Linked DNA regions of Homo sapiens: regions 2 and 3 are each linked to region 1. The links come from fine-mapping of genetic effects on gene expression. A gene starts in region 1. Each other region holds a variant in brackets. All regions are shown on one strand. Distances are from middle to middle. Region 1 holds the start of TCEA3 (transcription elongation factor A3). Region 2 overlaps ASAP3 (ArfGAP with SH3 domain, ankyrin repeat and PH domain 3). Region 3 overlaps ASAP3 (ArfGAP with SH3 domain, ankyrin repeat and PH domain 3).

Region 1 (2,758 bases):
AGCACATGGCTACGGATGGTGGGAGGAAGAGGACCCTGGAACAGGAACGGGAGGTGGGAAGGGCATGCTCACCAGGCTCCCTTTTTTTCCCTCCCAGGGTGAGCGCAGGCCCTCCAGGACCCAAGGCCAAATTTGCTCTGGCCAGGCGACCAGTCGGCCGCCAGCCCCAGGCAAAGATCACGGGGAAGATCAAACATTAACTTCCAGCTGGGTCTGCGCTCTGGCCAGGACCCTCCGGTAGGGCTGTCAGCCCTGCTCCCAACCTCCCGCCGAGCCCGCTCCTCCCTCCGCCCTCGCCCTCGCTGCACAGGCCTCCAGCCCGGCCCCCTTCCCCCGCCCCGCGGGCCCCCGCACCTGTTCGGCCCCCGCCCGTCCGGGCCGCACCCCAAGGCCAAGGAAAGGGAAAATTGCCAAAAGAACCGCTCCTGACGCACCAAGCGGTGGGGTCGCAGGATCCACGGCCTTTTACTTCTCTCCCGCAGACCCACTCCGGGGTGCAGGGATGCAGCTCAGTACCCCCGTCAGCCCAAGTTTCTCTGCCACTTCTCGGGCCACCCGGATTTGCCCCCCGCCCCGCCCCCGCCATCGCCGCCGCTCCCCGGGCTTTGCACACGCCAAGCCCTGGGACTCCCAAAGTCCTTTCCCACGTCCAGCTCTCTTCGCCCGCTTTCCTGGGCCCTGCACTAGCTGCCCAGGGTGAACCCTACACGTCCAAAGGGACGTGCACAAGTCGCGCCTCCGGGACCCGCACGATCCCCCTGGCGTCCTGGGCCACGCACACGCCCACCTCGAGGTGCTCAGCAAGGGTCCCCAAGGGGCCTTGGGCCCTGCACCAGCCGCTCCTCCCTCGGGTCCCCGAGTCCCGTACGCGCCCCCATGGCGCCCCGCCAGTACGTCCCCACCCCGGAATCCGGGGCTTGCCCGCGCCTCCCGGGGGCGGGGGCCGTGGCCCAAACTCTGCAGCCTCACCGTGTTCTTCCTGGCCACCATCTTCTCCAGCTTTTTGGCGATCCTCAGCAGCTCCTCTTCCTGGCCCATGTTGGCCCGCGACGCCCGGCGGGGCGAGGGGCACAGGGGCAGCAGTAGGGCCTCGGGGGCAGGAGGCGCGAAGGCGGAGGGCGCGCAACCCGCGCGGGCCCCAAACACACACGACACACACGCCCGGCGGGGGCGGGGCTCTCCCCACCCCCACCCCCCCACCGCCCGCCTCCCAACTGTGCGGGGGAGGGGTGGCGGGCACTAAATATAGACTTCAAGGACTTGCCCGGGCACTGATTGCCCGCGCCGGCCGATCGGGCCTCAGGGGAGGGACGAGGCTGAGAGAGGGGACCCTCCAACTCCGGCCCTTCCAGGGGCGCCGGGGGACCGAAGAGAGATTTGGGAAGGAGGGCTCTCTGGCGAGCTGGGAGGCTGTGACCTGGCCACAGGCGGCGGTCGCGGCGCGGAGGGCGCCCGAGGGTGTCCCAGGGGCCCTGGGAAGCGTTCTGGGCTCCCGCGTCTCTGCACCGTTGCATCTCAAAGCGGGAGGACACAGTTCCGCGCCTATGCCCAAGTGGAGGCAACTCGGTGCGCTCGAATCCCGTGTGTGTGTGTGTGTGTGTGTGTGTGTGTGTGTGTGTGTGTGTGTGTAGATCACTAAATCCAGCTCTGCTTTAACCTGCACTCACTCCATCGTGCACACGGCCTGTGCATGCCACGTGTATCCAGGCTCCTGTTTGCCTCTGTCTACCTAAAACTTCCTTTGCTGGCTGTTTTGTTAGTAAGGCTTTGCATTTTTAACAAGCTCCTATGTGCTGGGGGTGCTGCTGGTCCCAGAACTACACTCTCGAGTAGTGAGAGCTTATCGGGGAGATTCTTTTTATTTTTTTGAGACAGGGTCTCCCTCTGTGGCTGAGGCCAGAGTGGAGTGGAGCAATCAGGCTCACTGCCTCGACTTCCCCAGCTCAAGTGATCCTTTCTGCCTCAGCCTCCTGAGTAGCTAGGACTACAGGCGTGAGCCATCCATCATGCCCAGCTAATTTTTTAATTTTTTGTAAAGACTAGGTCTTACTACGTTGCCCAGGCTGGTCTGGAACTCCTGGTCTCAAGCGATCCGCCTGCCTTGGCCTCCCAAAGTGCTGTAATTACAGATGAGATTCTTTTTTTTTTTTTTTGAGACGCAGTCTCGCACTGTCGCCCAGGCTGGAGTGCAGTGCCACGATCTCGGCTCACTGCAAGCTCTGCCTCCCGGGTTCACACCATTCTCCTGCCTCAGCCTCCTGAGTAGCTGGGACTACAGGCGCCCGCCACCACGCCCGGCCAATTTTTTTGTATTTTTAGTAGAGATGGGGTTTCACCATGTTATCCGGAATAGTCTCGATCTCCTGACCCCGTGATCTGCCTGCCTCGGCCTCCCAAAGTGCTGGGATTACAGGCGTGAGCCACCGCACCCCGCCGAGATTCATTCTTAAGTGCACCAAATTTTGAGAAATATTGATCCAGGTGCAAGGCTGCCAGGTCAGGCCAGTATCCCCTCAGTGGGGTTGGGTTTGGAAGTCATCTTAGTGGAGGGGTGGAAACACAATTGTGCCTATCTTCCCCAGCCATGCAGGGATCTGCCTTCCTGTGGAATGATCTCCAATGATCTTCAAGTATCTCCTGCAGACCCAGTTCTCTTGCTAAATAAGTGAGTTTAATGGACAGAAAATGATCTTCCTGTGATGGGGGTGGGGCTCAGGAACCTGGAGGGAAGGCATGAAAAGTGGTCCACAGTGTGTGG
Region 2 (2,758 bases), 24 kb after region 1:
GTCCTTGGATAATATAATGCATAGGAAACAGTACAGTTCCTGGCATATGGCAAGCCCTCAATGAATGGTAGGATTATGATGATTCAAGTGATGGCAATGATGACAGAGTAGTAAATACTGGTGATCCCTTTTAGATAATTTTTTTCAGCATATGGTACTTTCTTCTTTCTTTCTTTTATTTTTTGAATGCTAGTAGAGATTAAAAGATGCTACTTAACTCAAGGTGTAGATAAGCCGTGAAGTACACAACTTTGTCAATGTACTTCAGCTTTGACAAAATGTACACAGCTGTGACAAAATGGCTTTGTCAATTATCACAGTTCTGTCCCTCAGCCTCAGCTAAGATAATTCATAGAGATTTTCCCTACAAAGTCTGACATAGTCATTCTGAGATGACCTAATAGCTGGGGAGTGCTTTTCTTCCCCTATAAAATAACAAGTCCCATTCCTTCCCTATCCTCAAAGGATCACCAACATTTTTAAAACATTTCTAAAACATTTCAAATGTTAGAAACATTTTTCTGTCTTATGAGTGGAATTGCAATAGAAGGAATGAAATGAAATAGTGGGTGAAAGTACTTAAATGCTAGTTACTAAGACCGAGATCATTGCAGAAGGAGACTACAGCAACAGTCCAGTGTTATTCATGGGATGGGTACAGGTACTCCTGGTGCAGGCAGGAAAGTATTTAAATACCACACACCCACCAACCTTGAAACCTTGAGCCACGCTTAGGTGGCAGGGATTCCTCACTACTTACCTATAAATTGGGAATAACAATAGCAGCTTTCCCTGCCAGGGAGAATAAATCTGGTAATAGATGCAAAGACCTTACTCCACTGCCTGGCACAAAGGAAACTCTAAAGTAGAAGCTGCTATTATTACTAATTATTATTATTATTCTTTTTTAGAGACAAGGTCTAGCTCTGTCTCCCAAGCTGGTCTCAAATTTCCTGGCCTTAAGCAATCCTCCTGCCTCAGCCTCCCAAGTAGCTGAGATTACAGTCATTAGCCACCATGTGTGGCTTCTAAATATATGTATTATATTTATTATATATGTATTATTATTATCAATTTTTTAAATAGAGGCAAGGTCTCACTATGTTGCCCAGGCTGGTTTCGAACTCCTGAGCCCAAGTGATCCTCCTGTCTTGGCCTCCCAAAGTGCTAGGATTACAGGCTCCTAGTTATAATTTTTAGGCCCAGGCACTCTGCTAGGCCCTTCATATGTTAAAAT[T/G]ATAGCCCCATAAGGCAGGATCATTATCCCATTTTATAGAAGAGGAGCCTATGGCTGAGATAAGTCATTTGTCCAAGTCACACAGCTGTTAAGTGGTGGGGCCAGGAGTTGAACCCAGGACTGGCTGGTGCCTAAGCCTTAGGGGCAGCCCAAGCAACCAACACTGTGACTCAGGTTTGTTCCATTCCTCCTTCCCTGCCTCATTCCTGCGAGCTGCTGACAGTCACACTGTTTATTTTCTGAGAGATAACAGTCTCTCTCAGAACAGGGACCATTTTACAGATGATGAAGCTGAGATCCAGAGAAGGAAAATGGCTTGCACAAGATTAAAAGCTGGCTAGGGTAAATGCTACCAGCAGATGTGTGGGTTTCTGCCTGTCAATCTCTTCCTGTGTTATTCTGGTCCTAGTTCTGGCTCATATAGGTGGTCAATAAATACTTGCTGAACTGAAGTGCTGAGTGCTTTATATGCACCGTGCTTATTCATCGCCGCATTGACCCTGAAAGGTATTACTGTCCCTATTGTACAGATGAGGAAACAGACCTGTACATGGAACTGCCTAGATAAATTTGGCCTCTGTACAGGGCCCGGGATGCCTTTCTCAGCAGCCCCACGTGGAGAGGTAATCCTCCTCCTATATGAACAGCCAGGGGTGAAGCTCCCAGTGGTATTTGACAGATGCTATCAGGGCCCTGGGCCCTTCCAGCTGGGGCTCAGACTTGTTTGGTAGGAATGTGGTGAAATTACATAGGAACTTACGGCTCACGCATATCTGGCTACACCTGGAGCCCGTATGAAAAGGAGTGTACAGTCACCCGTGCCAAGACATTAGCTCAAACTATGTGGCTCCATGGTGGGAGCCAGGAGACCACATGGCAGAAATAGCACTAGACTCAGAAGCCCTGGGTTCTAGTCCAGGTCCTATCGATAACTCACCGAATAACCTCAGCCAAGCCCCCTTTCCCATCAACTAAATGGAGTCTGGCCTGTAAATGAAATGCTACAGGAAGGCTCAATATAGAAACCTAGGAAAAGCAGACCTGCTTTGGGAAGGTCAGCAGAGTAGAGCTTATTATTTCTATTTGGTAGACGATCCCCGAAAGTCTAACGGCTTAGTTAAGGTAACTCAGGAAGAAGAGGGCCATGTGGCCCCACAGCAAATCATGAAGACAAGGTCAGCCTGTGCCCTCACTACCCGTCCCTGGGCCTCCAGTGAGAGCAGATGGCCGTGCCCCATCACAGGCAGGGATAGGGCCCCACAGGGATGGCCACACAGTGTCTACACCCTTCATCACAGGATCTATGCCCACAGCTGGGGCTGGAGATGCTTGTGCAGGGACAAGATGTGACCTTGCCTCAGACTTGGAGCGGTGCCATGGCTCTGGGAGCTGAGGGAACAATAAAAAGCTCCAGGATCTACTTCTTGAAATTGATCCTGCAAAAATAATTATGAGTAGGGACAAATATTTAAATCCAAGGATGCTTCTCCAATGACAGGAACAGATTAAATACATAATGGC
Region 3 (2,758 bases), 40 kb after region 1:
CCATGTTGGCCAGGCTGGTCTCAAACTCCTGACCTCGTGATCCGCCTGCCTCGGCCTCCCAAAGTGCTGGGATTACAGGCAGAAAAATCCATTCTCTGCTTAACTCACAGAATTACTGTGAGGCTTAATGAGATCACAAACATGGCAAGGCTTGAGGCATTTGGAAAACATGAGTATGGTTCTTACTGTGGTTTGTTTTCTGCCTCTGTGTGAGATCAGCCCTCGTTTCCCATGAAACTGGATAGATGAAGGAAAAGCCAGGTGTGGCGGCTCCCTCCTATCATCCCAGCACTTTGGGAGGCCAAGGTGAGAGGATCGCTTGAGCCCAGGAGTTCAAGACCAGCCTCGGCAACAAAGTGAGACCCCCACCCCGATCTATACCAAAAAAAAAAAAAATTTTTTTTTTTGAGACACAGTCTCTCTCTGTTGCCCAGGTTGGAGTGCAGTGGTGTGATCTCGGCTCACTGCAACCTCCACTTCCCAGGTTCAATCGATTCTCCTGCCTCAGGCTCCTAAGTAGTTGGGACTACAGGTGCCCGCCACCATGCCCGGCTAATTTTTGTATTTTTAGTAGAGATGGGGTTTCGCCATGTTGGCCAAGCTGGTTTCAAACTCCTGACCTCAACTGATCCTCCTGTCTTGGCCTCCCAAAGTGCTGGGATTACAGGCATGAGGCACTGCACCCGACCATTACAAAAAATTTTTTAAAAAAGTTAGCCAAGTGCTGTGACACACACCTGTAGTCCCAGCTATTTGGGAGGCTGGGATGAGAGGAGCCCTTGAGCCCAGGAGTTCGAGGTTGCAGTAAGCTATAATCATGCCACTGCACTCCAGCCTGAGTGACAGAATGAGACACTGTCTTAAAAAAAAAAAAAAAAAAAAAAAAAAAAAAAAAAATCAGCTTCTGGGTTCAGGTGGGCCCATTTAATCCCTGATAGTCAGAGATTCTCAAGGTGGGGGCCCTCAACCAGCAGCAGGCATCATCCAGGAACTTGTTAGAAAAGCAAATTCTCCAGCTGAATCAGAAAATCTGGGGGTGAGGTCCAGCAATCTGTGGTTTAACAAGCCCTCCAGGTGATTCTAATGCATGCTAAAGTTTGGGAATTACTGTTCTAATTCTCTTCAGAGATGCAGTACATCATCATTGCTAAAAGTATGGGGCTGTCCCCAAACTACCTGGATTTGAATTCCAGCTCCACCAGGTACCTGATGTGATCTCTCAGTCCCTCAATTTCCCCATTCATAAAATGAAGATGATAATATTGCGTACCACATAAGGTTACTGGGGAGATTAAGTAAATTCTATAGGTAAAGTGCTTAGAATACTGTCCACTATTTGATAACTAAAAATGTTATCTACTTCAAAATTAAATTGAATTTGGTTTAGGAATTTCTCAACTTTCATTGAATTAATTAAACATATCTCCCCACACCCCCAACTCCATGTTGATCCTCGTCAGCAAGCTGTGGGGAAGCACAGGTGGAGAGGGACCACAGCAGACCTCTGCCGCCGGGCAGGGAGAGTGCAAGCAGCATGTCCCAAGTGCCTGCTCTGTGCAGCCTCATTACTTGTCACTATCCTGGCCACTCTTTGAGGAAGGCATTGCCATTCCCATTTTAAAGATGAAGCTGTCAGGAGGAGGAACATGTCCAAGTCAC[A/C]CAGTGATGAACAGTGGCAGAGCTGTAACTTTTTTTCTTTTTTTTCTTTCTTTTTTTTTGGGGGGGGGATAGACTCTCACTCTCGCCCAGGCTAGAGTGCAGACACACAATCTCAGCTCACTGCCACCTCTGCCTCCTGGGTTCAAGCGATCCTCCTGCCTCAGCCTCCTGAGTAGCTGGGTTTACAGGCGTGTGCCACCATGCCCAGCTAATTTTTGTATTTTTAGTAGAGACAGGGTTTCGCCATCTTGACCAGGCTGGTCTCGAACTCCCGACCTCAGATGATCTGCCCACCTCGGCCTCCCAAAGTGCTGGGATTACAGACATGAGCCACTGCACCTGGCCCAGAGTTACAATTTAAATCCAGGACTAGCCAAATCCAGGGCCAATGTTCTTTCCCCATCTCTAAGCTGCCCCACAAAGTTAGGGGGCACAGCTTATTTGATCTTGGGACTGGATCTGCCTCCAAACCTAAATCCCAATTCTACCACCTCTACCATATTCCCTCACCATCCCCTCAGGCTTAGGAAAGGGAGAAGGCAGGGCACAGAGGGAGATCTGTCCAAGGAAAACAAGGTTGACAGCAATGGTGAGGCCCCGAATACAAACACTGTAAAGGATGTCCTACTGAAAAGAAAACGGATTTGTTCAGGCTGGCCTCAGAGAGGATTCCCAGGACTGAGAGGTGGAAGTTAGGGAGGCAGAAACAGACTTCAGCTCAAACAGGGGACATTTCTAAGGAAGAACAGGCCACCCCTGAAGGCAGTGAGCTCCCTGTCACTTGAAGTATTCAAATACTTTAGGTGCTAGAGAGTGATTCAGACACTGGATTTTGGATTAGAATGGACAGCTATTTAGATTTCATTCAAAGCTAAGAGTCAATGGATCCATGCAAGAGCCTGGCAGGCACTGGGCAAAGGTGGCTGAAACACATCTTAGTGTAAGAGACACGTCTGAGCTTGGAAAGCCCACTGGAGTCCTTTGGGCAGCCTACCCTGGCTGGCCCTAAACAAGGCCTAAATTCCAGCTGCTGGCACTGCCCTTTGTGTCCCCTACCCTGATCCCAACATACACACACACCATGCTCTGGCTCTCTGGT

Evidence for each region.
Region 2: its variant is fine-mapped to the expression of TCEA3 in whole blood (TOPMed, PIP above 0.99).
Region 3: its variant is fine-mapped to the expression of TCEA3 in whole blood (TOPMed, PIP above 0.99). The same link has a PIP of 0.9 or more in blood mononuclear cells and left ventricle.

The regions. Positions count from the first base shown.
Region 1 is chr1:23,423,596-23,426,353 of GRCh38, forward strand. It overlaps TCEA3 (transcription elongation factor A3), which reads right to left and starts at 1,153. Exons shown (of 11, transcript NM_003196.3): 1 at 970-1,153. The coding sequence starts at 1,038. LOC124903875 (a long non-coding RNA gene) reads left to right here and starts at 1,271. Exons shown (of 3, transcript XR_007065535.1): 1 at 1,271-1,566; 2 at 2,583-2,665.
Region 2 is chr1:23,447,566-23,450,323 of GRCh38, forward strand. All of the region lies in intron 5 of ASAP3 (ArfGAP with SH3 domain, ankyrin repeat and PH domain 3), which reads right to left. Among named protein-coding and RNA genes, the nearest start is that of TCEA3, 24 kb to the left of the region's middle. The variant T/G (reference allele first, on the strand shown) is at 1,238.
Region 3 is chr1:23,463,798-23,466,555 of GRCh38, forward strand. The region is part of intron 1 of ASAP3 (ArfGAP with SH3 domain, ankyrin repeat and PH domain 3); the gene reads right to left. Among named protein-coding and RNA genes, the nearest start is that of ASAP3, 19 kb to the right of the region's middle. The variant A/C (reference allele first, on the strand shown) is at 1,660.